Linked DNA regions of Homo sapiens. Each later gene encodes a partner of the first gene's protein in a complex. Links are inferred from orthologs where the notes say so. Each region holds a gene or a part of one and is shown on either strand. Other genes may lie near its edges.

Region 1 (7,026 bases):
GTCTCTACTAAAAATACAAAAATTAGCTGGGTGTGGTGGCACACGCCTGTAATCCCAGCTACTCAGGAGGTGGAGGCAGGAGAACTGAAACCAGGAGGCGGAGATTGCAGTGAGCCAAGATCGTACCACTGAACTACAGCCTGGCAACACTCACACTTTGACACTATACACCAGGGGCTCTTGGTGGAGAAACCCCCCACCCAGCTAAGAGCGTTCTGGAGATGTGGAGGGCTCTGACTATCACAAGGATATTGGCATTTCACAGGCAAAAAACAGAGACACAAGACACCCTAACTTGAAGATTCGTCTTGAGTAACTTTAGAATGTTCCACTGGACATCTAAGAAGGTAAAAAATTAGTTTGTAATTATCTGAGACTCCACCTGAATGCCATTTTACATTAATGCAAAGTTAAGGTGTCACACTGTACTTTCAAAAAAACTACATGTGTGGGTTTGTGATATATGAATTTTACTCAAAGATAAATGAGGCATCACAAAGTGTGTTATGCAAAAAAGGTGCAGGTCAGAATGGGGGCGGGGGGTCAGAATGGGGGCGGGTGAGAGTCAGAATGGGGATTGGGGGGCAGTCAGAAACGGGGCAGGCTCCCAGGCTCTGCTCTTGTGACGGAGCACCTCTGCAAGAGAAGACGACACGGGTCTCATGTGCTCCAAGGGTGGGAGGTCACAGAGGAGCTGGCAGAGAAGAGTCCCAAAAATATCCAAGGCGTGTCTCGATGAGACCATCTGAAGGCGGCGCTTTGCTCCCTACGCCGGGGACAGCGCCCGCCAACACTGTGGCCTCCACAGCCTGACAAAGCTGTGAGCTGCGTGGGAAGCCATCGGCCTTGGCCATGGCCATGCACCTGCAGCCCAAATGGAGACAGTTTCTCCTCTGCATCTCATCACAGATGTTACCCTGGTTCCTGCACTGATTCAAATACATCTATGGCTTTTATTTTATTTTATTTTATTTTTTTGAGACCGAGTCTCACTCTGTTACCCAGGCTGGAGTGCAGTGGTGCAATCTCAGCTCACTGCAACCTCCGCCTTCTGGGTTCAAGCAATTCTCCTGCCTCAGCTTCCCGAGCAGCTGGGATTACAGGCACACACCACCACACCTGGCTAATTTTTGTATTTTTAGAAGAGACGGGGTTTCACCATGTTGGCCAGGCTGGTCTCAAACTCCTGACCTCAAGTGATCCGCCCACCTCAGCCTCCCAAAGCGCTGGGATTACAGGTGTGAGCCACCATGCCCAGCCATCTATGGCTTTTAACTGCTTTCTAAAGTAGGAAAGCCCTTTGCCCTAGTAAAGGCATTTGTACCTGAAACGTTACCACAGATTGTAACAGCGAGGCCAGATGCAAGGCCCCAGGACAGTAGGGTCCTAACACCCACTTCAGGTTCTTCATCTTCCTTATCCTCTCAGGCCTGGGAGACCCTCCTCAGGGAGCAGGCCTGGCTCCTGGGCCACACCAGTTCACCTCCTCCCTCCAATAGCAGGACAACTTGAGGGGTGAAGGTTTTGCCTACAAGGGCCCCAGGCTCCTGCATGTGAAGCCAGGCAGCCTCTGATCCCCACACCCCTGTGCTCCCCAGCACACCCGGGGACACGCACACCACAGCCTCCCCCAAGGAGCTGTGTGCAGAAAGAGGATGCTCGGAAGAAGTAAAATGTCCTGGCCTCATCTATGATGTTAAATAAAAGACATTTTGGCCAATGTGACACCAAGATAAAGCCACTGTCTCTCGTGGGAAAGGCACATGTGCTGATGCCACCCTGAGGCCCCTTCACGGCCCATACAGAAGACCCTGAGCAAGAAAACTTCGCCAGGAGTGTCTCCCCATAGGGAGGGGCCTCTCACTGGGGCTCCCGTGAGCAATGGGAACAGATTGGAAAGCACAGGATAGCAATGACACCCACACACCATAGCTCTCGGTCAGAACAGAGGGGCCCACACACCACAGCTCTCGGTCAGGACGGAGGCGCCCACACACCACAGCTCTCAGTCAGGACGGAGGTGCCCACACACCACAGCTCTCAGCTCAGAACAGAGCTGCGTGCCTCGGCCACAGACACCTCCCTAAGGAACCCACCCGCCAGGCACCACTGACCATCAGGAGTGAAGCCACACTCAGAAAATCCACTGAATGAGCCCTGAAGGGGGAACTCCCTCCAAGAAGGCACCTTACAGAAATGCTGAACCTCACTGGACCCTCATCCTCCTTTTCAGAGGGCAGCACACTGCTCTCACTCCCAGGGTCCAGAAGCTTCCATCTGATCCCTAAGCCACACAGTCAAGGCCAGGCCCTCCAAAGTCCACCCTGAGCCTAGCCGGACAAACCTGGGTGTGATCAAAGGCCTGGGGTATGGGCACACCTCACTTCTCAGGACCCACATTAAAAAGAAACATCAAATAAGAACCAAAGAGAGACTGAAGACAATCCTACAGCCCCTTTCCATGCTCCCTCAGCGAGTTCCTCTTAACGTCAAAGCAGCTGGAGGGGAGCGAGAGCACCTGGTGCCTTCCCAGCTTCCAACAGGCAATCCCAGGTTTCCGTGGAAGACTTCACAGTGCCCTTGCTGAAAGCCGGCCTCCAGGAATCCCTGCACACCAGCCTCCCCTGGATCACGTCATCCTGCCCTCGCCTCCTCACCCAACTGGGGCCGCGTCCTCCTCTCTGCAGGGCGGAGCCGCTGCCGGCCCAGCACCCACGGGAAGGCCCCTGCTCCGGCAGCTCACAGACAAATCTCCACAAGCAAGTTTCTGCCTCCAGAAACCTATGTCAAGATGTCCAAAGGAGAGGGAGAGATGGATTAGAGGAGTGACAGAGGCCTGCTGCACTAGGCGCCTGGCTAGTGACGTCCCACGGGAGGAGACAGGGTCAAAAGCAGGTCACCAGCTCTACAGAGCACATGAGAAACATAAGCATGAAGGTGCTCAGGCGTGAAGGGAAGACGCCCACCTTGGGAGAAAGAGTCACATCTTTCATTCATTTCATTCACTCCAGGATGAGCTCACAGGCAATTCAAGCCTCCAGATGGCGGGCACAGCAGCGTGCCACAAACAACACAGAGAGAGGGCACGGGGGGACAGGGGCTGCACAGAGGACACTAGGTGGAGGGAGGGGAGAGGGAGGAAGAGGGGGAGGGAAGACTGCTCATTGAGATGTCAGGCTCAGCCTGGATACCAGCCCCATGGCAGGCCCTGCACTGTCGGCCAGAGGGGCAGGACACATGGTCAGCCGGGGCACATAAGCAGGTCCCCGCCAAGGAGTGCCAGGACTCCGACATGAGCACCCTCCCAACCAGCACACTGCCAGGGCAGGCACCACCACAGGAGCTCACCCCACAAAGCCCTGCCGATACTGGGTAGCAGCACTGGTTGCCACCACTGGACCTGCGTCCTGGAGAGACAGGTCCTCTAACTGGACAAACAGAAAGCCCGCCTGACCCCGACAGGAGCCCTCCCTGACAGTGCAGAGGGGAACAGCTGGCAAGCAGAGCCAAGCAAAAACGCAACTCTCAAAACGACACTTCTCACCTGACAAATACCACAGGACACATTCTGTTACAGGATTATTCTCATCGCATCACACATACAAGGAAAACCAGACCTAACCCAACTCACTACATAAAACCTCGAAGAGCAGGGCAGGACAGGTCCTCTCTAAATCAACAAAGCATGTGAGGACAGCTGCCTGGGTGAGGCAGTCCTGTAGGAGAGGGGACGGCCACTTCCCCTAAAACAAGGCACCACAGAGGATGTGTGAGCTGAGCTGGACAAGACGACGGTCTGAAGGAAGTGCCTTGCCCAGCAGGCACAGTGGCCCCCGGGAGAGGACAGCGGGGTGTGCAGCAGGGACAGTGGCCCCCGGGACAGGCCAGAGGGGCGTCCAGCAGGGACAGTGGCCCCCGGGACAAGCCAGCGGGGTGTGCAGCAGGGACAGTGGCCCCCAGGACAGGCCAGGGGGGCGTCCAGCAGGGACAGTGGCCCCCGGGACAGGCCAGCAGGGTGTGCAGCAGGGACAGTGGCCCCCGGGACAGGCCAGGGGGGCGTCCAGCAGGGACAGTGGCCCCCGGGACAGGCCAGCAGGGTGTGCAGCAGGGACAGTGGCCCCCGGGACAGGCCAGGGGGGCGTCCAGCAGGGACAGTGGCCCCCGGGACAGGACAACGGGGCGTCCAGCAGGGACAGTGGCCCCCGGGACAGGCCAGGGGGGCATCCAGCAGGGACAGTGGCCCCCGGGACAGGCCAGCAGGGTGTGCAGCAGGGACAGTGGCCCCCGGGACAGGACAACGGGGCGTCCAGCAGGGACAGTGGCCCCCGGGACAGGCCAGGGGGGCGTCCAGCAGGGACAGTGGCCCCCGGGACAGACAGCGGGGCGTCCAGCAGGGACAGTGGCCCCCGGGACAGGACAGCGTGGCGTCCAGCAGGGACAGTGGCCCCCAGGACAGGACAGCAGCGTGTCCAGCAGGGACAGTGGCCCCCAGGACAGGACAGCGGGGTGTCCAGAGCCACAGCCAGAGCCTGGGTTCTCAGTACATGCTCCTCCCTGACAGGCAAATGCTCTGCTGGTCCCAAGTCTTGGGGGTGAGGCCCTGACAGGTCTGGGTGCACAGTAGGTGAGGGACCCACCACGGCGCTGGTACTGGCTGGGGCAGGCTCAGGACCCCCGTTCACGTCCACACTCCTGTCCCGCTTGGTGTCCTCCAGGTCTGTCACCGTGCTGGGGCCCTTCTTCTTCTTGAGCTTTGCCAAGATGGAGGACTCCCGCTCCGGGAATGGGGGCATCTCCTCCAGCACGGTCGCCTTGGAAAGAACACAGGGTGGGACTGGTCAGAGCTCCTGGCCTCCAACCCTCAGCCAAGCCAGCCCGAAGGGCGGGGGCCTCCTACCAGAATGTCGGTGCTGGCCACGGTGCTGAGCCGCAGGTACTCCACAGCACGCTGCTGCAGCTCCACGTCTGCGTTCCTGAGCTGGCTGTCGCTGCGCAGCACGTCCTGGATGGTGGGCTTCACCTCCGGGAAGAGGTTCACGAACTTGATGTAGGTGGACAGGAGCAGCGCGCGGGTGGGGACGCTGCACAGGTGGAACTTGGAGTGCAGCAGGTGGAACTGGATCAGCGGGCTGGGGACGGGGAGGCACAACACAGGGACACCGTCGTCCCCTCGCAGGCTGCAGCACGCCCCCGCGGGGGGGGGACGGCGGCGAGACCCCCTGGCCTGCACCAGAGGCCGCTGGTCGGGACCCTCTTCCAGCTCCAGATCCCACCGCAAAGACGCCCCTTTCACTAAGTCAGCCATCAACCCCACGTCTCCATTTTCTACTAGAATCCCTGCTTTTTCTATCAACTGAAGGAAAACAAAAAGACGCCGATGGGGAGCAGAAGCGGCTCTGCGAGGCCTCACGGCAGGGCCAGCTGGTGCCTCGCCTCTTGCCACCGACCACCGAGAGGCCCGCCGGAGCGCACACAGCCCCGACTCGCAAAGGGCCTCTCACCTGGATCTCGGGTCTCCAGCTATCAAGTTTCCAAACTCCCCCAGGATGTAGCCGCCCACTTTGACCAGGTTCTCGTGGCACGCGGGAGCCTGAAGAGCCTGCGAAGCACAAACAATGAGCCGGGGTGGCAGCCAGGTGCCAGAGTTAAGGCGAGGCGGGCACGTCCTGGCGCGGTGCACCCTACACCAGCACCAGCCCCTCAGCTTCCTGGAGACCCCAGTCCAAGTGCCCATCCCTGCCTTCCTCAGCACCCTCAGTACCTGTGTCAGCAGCAAGGAACCCAAGGCTGCCACACGCTGACCTGCCCTGGAGGGAGCTGCAGCATCCACAACAGGCTCTGGCTGGGGAGGTTCTGCCAGCGTCCTCATGGCACACCCCTTGCCGGTGGCCTAACCCTCTCCGACGGACAGGGCAGGCCCCACCACGGCATGCCCCAGCATGCTCTCACACACACAGAGGCCGGCTTTCTCAGGTGGCCCCCAGAGAGCCAGAAGTTTGAGAGTTAGGGTGAGAAGAAACTGGGACTCAGCAAGGGGCACCAACAGTGGAGGAGCTAGAGCCTCAGGGAAGAGCTGAGGGGCAAGAGGGGTCAGCAACGGCCCTCGGCACCTCCACGCAGGCAGGCTGGAACCACTCACTGCTCACCTTCTGCAACTGCCCTCCACCCCATCCTTCCTGCCATCCTGCGGGCCATACCTCGAACACAGTCTTGGCCGCGTAGCCCTGCACGTCGTCCCGGTTGATGACGATCTGAATGACTCGGTACCACACCTCTTCACTCACGTAATCACCAGCAATTCGGATCAAGTTCAAGATGGTATCCACATACCAGGTGTAGTCCACCGCGTACTTCTCAGCCAGGATGGCGACCTTCAGCACCTGTGGGGGACAGGCTGCTGAGGGCCGGCACCTGCAGGCCATGGCAATCCCAAGACCAAACTGTCGTCCAAAGTCAAAGTGAGAGTTTCAGAAGCACCTCAATGTGTCTACAAAAGTTTGGGACATGGAGGAAGCTTGAACTCGATTCTCAAAAAAGCCCACGAGCCCAGAAAGTTTAAGATGCCCTGACTTAAGCAAAGAAAGCCAGGAAGAGGCGGAGACCAGTGCACAGAAGGCCACGGCCACAGCCAGGCCACCTCCCACCTGGGCCCTTCTCTCCCAAAGCCCCAGCACCTGGCGGCAGCACTCCTCTGACCTCATCACCCTAGGCTCCCGGTGGCAGCACTCCTCTGACCTCTGACTGCGCCACCCTGGGCTCCCGGCGGCCAGTGACTGCGCCACCCTGGGCTCCCGGCGGCCACTTCTCTGCTGGTTTCTTCCGGCTCTGGCCAGTCTTTCCTGCGAGCCTCACCTGGGGGTTCCCCTTCTTCCCCTCTCTGGCTCACTCTCACGGGTGCCCCCCGGAGGCACCTGCCCAGCCCACACCCACGTGGCAGCCACCCACATGGAGCTCTGCCAGGCTGTACAACACCAAACTCATCTCCCCAAAGTCACCTCGCCTGGAACCAAGCCCCCTTCGAACAGC
Region 2 (7,026 bases), on another chromosome or scaffold:
ATAATTTCATATTTTTTATATATGCATAATGCTATATCTATGTTGTACCTACAGAACAAAAGATGGAATGAAGTTATCAATAATCCTTAGTATAAATGATCCATCAAAATTCTAATTAAGTGCAACATTTCATAAAAATTAATGGCTCATATAACTAAAATCTATCAATTTACCTAAGACATTCTAACTTCAGAGCCCAAGATCTCTCTCATTATTTTATGCTAGTTCTCAAAAATGTTCATCTGAGGATCAGAAATCATTACAGCTAATGGTTCCAGGTTTTAGTCAATAAAAGTCTATTTTATAGGGAGTCTCTGATACATTTTATCTTTAGCAATACAATACTGTAGAAACTCCAAGTCCAAATAACCATGTCTGAGAGAATATTAGCTTAAAAGTAAATATTGGTATGATGTACACTAACCTAGACAAGCTTAGATTTTCATGAGCAATAAATCTGGAGGTTGCAAAATGAAAAACTACCTTCTACTATGTCTACAAAAACTTTCCACTATAACTTCGTGCAACAATCACTTTCTAGAGATGTGGTGTATGCAATGATAAGTTGATTTTCACATAGGAAGATGTAGTAGCCTACAACATATGTTCAGCTATAACCAAGGAATGGTACCACAATAAGCTCTGTCAGAGCCATTTTGCCCTTAAAAATGCAGACTCATTCAATCAATATCCGAGTTGCTTAGACTACTGGGTTACAATTCTGGCTCTACCACTTAGCAGCAGTTTGACCTTGAACAAATTACTTCACCTCTGTGTCCCAGTTTTTTATTTTGTTTTGTTTTTGTAAAACAGGGATATAAGGATTACCAAGTTGTAAAGAATACTGAAAGGTTCATCAGGTTGTAAAGATTATTGAAAATAGCACATGACACGTAAGTGTGCTCAGTAAGTATTATTGTTATTATCCCACTATTGACCTCCTCCCCAATACACACAAACACACGCACACACACACCACTGGATAATTTCTTTTACATAACAATAGAGGAATGTAAGATCACATGAATGTTCATTCTTATCCCAAAATTTGACTGAAATATCATCAATGACTATAGGAAGCAGCATAGCAAATGTACTTGGAGAACAGATGTGCCTGGGTTCAAGTCTCAACTCTCCCACTTAAAATACAACCGTGAGCAAGTAATACAGAAGATTAATGCCTACTTGTAGAAAGGCTATGAAGATTAAGTGAAATAATGTATGTAGATCATCTAAAAGTATTTAGTATTTATTAGGTGTTCTAGAAGCATCAGTCCTCTTCCTTCTCAACAGTGGCATAAGAATGTTTTCCTTCCAGGATCTCTGTATTGATACTTAGCCCACTAGATAGAACTGTTCCACAACTAAAAGAAGACCACACTAAGTTTCCAAACTACAGTGGAGCCGGAAGAGGGAGGAGATCACACTAAAAAAGGCACAGAAATCACACATAAAATTAAGTTCACAATTTCAGGTTGCCTTCTCATTTAAGTTTTTTAAGCTCAATATTTATGCACAAGGAGTCAATCATGGCTCATGGCAGGCTTAAGAATAAAAATATGAAGATAAACTCTTTCCCCTGTCCTCACCCCTAGAAAGTATATCTTGTATGTCCTAATGGACCACAGAAAGTATGTATCTAGGCCGGGCACGATGGCTCACGCCTGTAATCCCAAGCAATTTGGGAGGCTGAGGAGGGAGGATCACCTGAGGTCAGGAGTTCGAGACCAGCCTGGCCAACATGGTGAAACCCCGTCTCTACTAAAAACACAAAAATTAGCCAGGTGTGGCGGTGGGCGCCTATAATCCCAGCTACTTGGGAGGCTGAGGCAGGAGAATCATTTGAACTCGGGAGGCAGAGGTTACAGTGAGCCGAGATCACACCACTGCACTCCAGCCTGAGCGACAGAGCCAGACCTCCGCCTCAAAAAATAATAATAAATAAATAAGTATATATCTAAACCAGTGATTTGGCCGGGCGCAGTGGCTCACACTATAATCTCAATACTTTGGGAGGCCAAGGCAGGAGGATCACTTGAGGTCGGGAGATAGAGACCAGCCTGGAAAACATGGTGAAATCCATCTGTACTAAAAATACAAAAAAAATTAGCCAGGCGTGGTGATGCACGCCTGTAATCCCAGCTACTCGGGAGGCTGAGGCACGAGAATTGCTTGAACCCAGGGGTGGAGGTTGCAGTGAGCCAAGATCACACCACTGCACTCCAGCCTGGACGACAGAGCGAGACTCTCTCTCAAAAGTACTAAAACTTTAAAATAAAAATAAATAAATAAACCAGTGATTCTAAACCAGAGGCAATTTAATCCTCTAGGAAATATTTGTCAGTGTCTGGAGATATTTCTGATTGCTGCAACTGGTGAAGGTGTTACGTCTAATGGATAAGGATGCTGCAAAACACCCTACAATGCACAGAACAGCCTCCCACAACAAGAAATTCTCCAGCCCAAAATCTCAAAGTGCCAAGGCTGAGAAACCATGATCTAAAAAACTATAAAGTACTGTAATATAAACGTCTTCCTCCAAAAAATATGTTCTTATCCTAGCATTCTTGGTCAAATTTGTATTCTTATTGCAGATTTAGTAAGGAATAAGCAGTTTGATTATTTCAGATGAAAAACTCCTGGTACTGTTATATTCCCATTGTAATAATCCCCAGTTTAAAGGAGGGAGGAAGTGAGGCTTACTTTTCTTTGTATATTTTTACCACATAAAAACAAGTTTTAAAAAGAGCCCAACTTTTATTTTTTAATTGCACCTCTGATTCATTTGAAAGCCTTATTTATATCACAAAAATGAGTTTCTTCTACCTCATTTCTATCCTACTTTTGCACAAAATATTCAGAAGTTCACATTTATGTGATAGGAAAGCAGAGTATATGAGGCAGGGTACAAGGCCAGCTTTTAACAAATTGGGAAACTACAGGAGTAGCTAAAGAAAATAAGTCACCAGTTCATTTTGTAATCACAACATGCTTAAGAGGTCTCAATAATACCCAAGAAGTCTCAGTAGTTTATTTCTAATATGCAAATGAGTGCACTTAAGAGGTTAAGTAATTTGCCCAAGATCACAGAACTACTCAGGGGCAGAACAGGTGTGCTCTTGCAGTTATATTAGTCTGCCTCTGCTCCTGAAGTTTAAAAATCTAGATTTTGCAGAAGCTCTAAGAGAAAAGACTGACAAATTAAACATATAAAACAAATATTTCTACATAATCAAAAAATGCCAAAAACAAAAAAAAATTCAGAGAAAAAAATTTTGCAAAGGATTTTGCAAAGAAGGGCAAATTTCCTAAATATAAGAAGAGTTCTTACAAATCAGTGAGAAAGAAGACAAACAGCCCATCAAGAGAACAGGTAAAAGACTAAAGCAGTTTATAAAAAAAGAAATACAAATGGTTTCAAAGGAAAAAAAAATAAGTTCAGCCTTACCCATAAAGAAATAACAAACTAAAACAATGAAATTGTTTGAAATCTTTCTGATTACTGGACTGACAATAATATACATGTTGATCAAGCTGTGGAGGAAATGACACTCTCAAACATGTGTGCTGCTACAGTGTTTCTGAATGTAAATGAGCAATATCTTTTTTTTTTTTTTTTTTTTTTGGAGACAGGGTCTTAGCTCTGTCACCTAGGCTGGAGTGCAGTGGTGCAATTATAGCTCACTGTAACCTGCTAATCATAGCTCACCTGTAGCCTGCTAGGACTACGGGCACACACCACCATGCCCAGCTAATTAAAAAAAATTTTTTTTTTGTCCCAGATGGATTTCACTATGTTACCCAGGCCTTGAACTCTTGGCTTCAATCAATCCTTCCGCCTCAGCCTCCCAAAGCACTGGAATTATAGGCCTGAGCCACTATGCCTACCCCAAATTAGCAGTATCTATGCAGATTAAAAGTATCCTCTGGCCCAAAAATTACACCTACTAGAAATTAATCCATATGCTCACACATGTGCACAAAAACATGTAAAAGAGTATCCACTGCAGCATAGTTGTAACAAAAGATTGAAAACAAAATAAATGTCCAGCATTAGGTGGCCAGTAAAATAAATAACAGTAAGTTCACATATAGAAATACCCTGAGGTTTTGAAAACAATAAGGGAGATCTATATGTGATGTTATAGAGCAATCTCCTAAATCAGTTAAGCTAAAAATAATATAACAACAAACTGTGAAACAATAAACAGCTTACACAAAAGAATATACATATACAGTATACATATATATTTATTCGCATATACACAGACTATTACTGGAAATTCACACAAGAAACTGGCAAGAATGGCTGCCTCTGGGAAAGCAAATGAGGGCCTAAAGCAGAAAGAAGACTTCACTAGCATTGTATGAATTTTTTTAACCATGAATTTATATTGGTTTTTTAATTTACTAACTATAAAACCTAAGTCCCAAATTCTGAGCCTCAGTATCCTCCAATTTGAAATGATGATAATAATAGCTTAGTTCATAGGTTACGCTTTGTTAAGTTATAAAGCAGCACAAAAAATTATAAATTAGTCCTCTAACTGAATTGTCCAAATCAATTAATATAATTATTATCATTCCTCTAATCAATTTCTCTAAATGTTTAGGATGAAAACTAAGTGTAGACACAATCTTAGAACACAAAGCTTTACTTTACACGTAGTTATTGTGTATTCAATTTAAATGAATAAATTCTCAAAAATGCCATAGAGAAAAGCTAAATCAGTTGATTACAGAAGGAATACATTCTCACTGTTGAAAACAAGGTAGATAAAAACTACAACCATGCTACTATAAAATTTTAGTGTTTTTTTTCTTCCAGGCTTTCTTCTACGCATGCTTAACTGGGTTAGATCATTTGTCTAAATAAAAAAAGTTCACTTTACTGTAATACAGCATTCAATTTACAAGATTCCTCAGATTATTAAAAACACCTAATAAATATAATTAATGAAGGCATACCTTGTTGATTCAACTGCTTTAAAAATGAAACTCCAGCATATGAATTTGCCTAATGAACTCTGCCTGGAGTAACTTTTCGTTTATTATTTCTACCAGTTCTCCAACTAACCAGATCTCTCTCAGGCCATTTACTTGGTTTTGGTTTCCAGAGTACTGATTTTTTTTTTAAAAACTTTTATTTTAGGTTCAAGGGTACATGTGAAGGTTTATTACATCAGTGGACTTGTGTCATAGGTATTAAGCCCAGTACCCAATAGTTATCTTTTCTGCTCCCAATTTTATTAAGCCCCAAACTCACAAACAAGTATATAAAGTGCTTTTTGTAATTCCCTAAAGAACAAGTAAAATATCTTAGATTAGGCCTTTAAAATCACACTATTAGAGATTGCAGAGATTCTGAACTATGATTCGTTGCTAATGATACTCAATCTTTTTCTATTACACGTTAGTCTGTTACTAGCATTCTGTCTGCAAATAGAGTGAAAACAAAGGAATGCACTCTTAGATTATTCCTGAGAGACTTGCTATTGGATGAACTTGTTCCTAATTAATTTTAACTATGACAACCTCTCCCAAGTGCTGAACATTTCAAGCCATCTTTGAGAAGGGTTAGATATCTCTCTCAAGAGATTTCCTGAGTATATCGAACCATAATTATAGGCAATAAAGAAAAACATCATTAATGTGCCTTTCCCATTGTAGGAACTCAAATATCTGTCATGTTGAGAACAATATCACTTTTCTGCTTCTGAGAACATGTTGTCATTTTCAAACTAACCTGTATTTACTGTCATAATTGTTAAACCAGACTACTAAGATGATATGTTTATTAGCACTTGTACTGCGTACTTGTTTAAAAAATGAAACTGAAAATAAACACTACAAACTGTGAAATTATGGGAGATGTTTTCCTCTAATTTCCAAGTTTTCTGTAATACAGTTATATCACTCTTGTAATTTAACAAAAAAAGCATTAGAACTGTTGTTATACCATTTATATACTAGGATTTTTAAAATTAAGTCCCTACTTAAGGGCTTTTTTATTACTTTAAAAAAAAAAAAGAATCTGACAACATAGTGAGTGAGTCCCTGTCTCTACAAAAAAATTTTAAAAATTAGCTGGGCATGGCGATGCACACTTGTAGTCCCAGCTACTCAGGAGGCTGAAATGGGAGGATCCCTTGAGCCCACAAGGTTGAGGATGCAGTGAGCCTGATCATGCCACTGTACTCCAACATGGGTGACAGAGTGTGATCCTGTCTCAAAACAAAACAAAAAAAAAAAAAAATTCTTGCTAAACTAAAGCAAGAAAACCAGTATAAAGCTGAATTGCTAAAAGACTATTTTAAATATTCAAATCCTATCTCAGTAAAATAAAACCTTTATCATCAATAGCACTAACTTTGAACACACAATTGTATCATCCAAGATATTATCAAAGGCACTAGAGATTCAGAGGCAAAAACCATGGCTTATATCCTCAAGAGGCTTACTACTTAAGACAATGGCATATGCCGAAAAAAAAGAACAAAAAATGTAAGGGAGCGTTGGATAGGCCAAGCATCTAGTACATAGAGAAGAACAGTGAAATAGCTTTTGAAGTCCTACAGACCTTGGTTCAAATCGTAGATTCACCACTTACTAGCTTACTTACTAGCTTCTCTAATTTGTAAAACATATCGTTAGATTCTAAGTGTAGTAAAATTCCTGGCATATAGTAATTCCCAAAGGGAAGTTAACAGTATTATTATTATTAGGGATATGGGCGTTAGGGAGTAAAACTGACTATTGGAAACTTTTTTTTTTTAAGTATTACATGCTTTTTTTCTAATCTACCAACAGAAGCAAAAATCAAGATCTTTCTCCCTCAGGTTTTACTTCTCATTGACAAGAAGTAAACAGAACACCTAGTAAAGACAACTGAATTAGAAAACATTTAAGGCTGTAAAGCACTAAAGAACCCAGAGAAAGTCCACTAGGTCTATAAATCATAGAACACTGTCTATAAAACAGGATCTTAAAAGTTGGAAAGGTCCTTAGATCAGCTAATTCAAACTC

Evidence for each region. The genes of interacting proteins can lie anywhere in the genome.
Region 2: the proteins of AP2A2 (region 1) and EPS15 are in contact, whole or in part, in a crystal structure (PDB 1KYU), measured with the Mus musculus proteins. The link is inferred for Homo sapiens from one-to-one orthologs. Residues at the interface, in XP_006536218.1 of Mus musculus: Phe442, Phe443, Trp446, Lys447, Asp487, Pro488, Val494, Arg511; in NP_031969.1 of Mus musculus: Asp629, Pro630, Phe631, Lys632.

The regions. Positions count from the first base shown.
Region 1 is NC_000011.10:991,857-998,882, reverse strand, and holds part of AP2A2 (AP-2 complex subunit alpha-2), read right to left. Parts: intron 6,381-7,026; coding exon 6,198-6,380; intron 5,600-6,197; coding exon 5,502-5,599; intron 5,130-5,501; coding exon 4,898-5,129; intron 4,812-4,897; coding exon 4,638-4,811; intron 2,782-4,637; coding exon of another isoform or gene 2,740-2,781; exon of another isoform or gene 2,690-2,739; intron 1-2,689. UniProt on the Homo sapiens protein: Component of the adaptor protein complex 2 (AP-2). Adaptor protein complexes function in protein transport via transport vesicles in different membrane traffic pathways.
Region 2 is NC_000001.11:51,509,241-51,516,266, forward strand, and holds part of EPS15 (epidermal growth factor receptor substrate 15), read right to left. Parts: intron 1-7,026. UniProt on the Homo sapiens protein: Involved in cell growth regulation. May be involved in the regulation of mitogenic signals and control of cell proliferation. Involved in the internalization of ligand-inducible receptors of the receptor tyrosine kinase (RTK) type, in particular EGFR.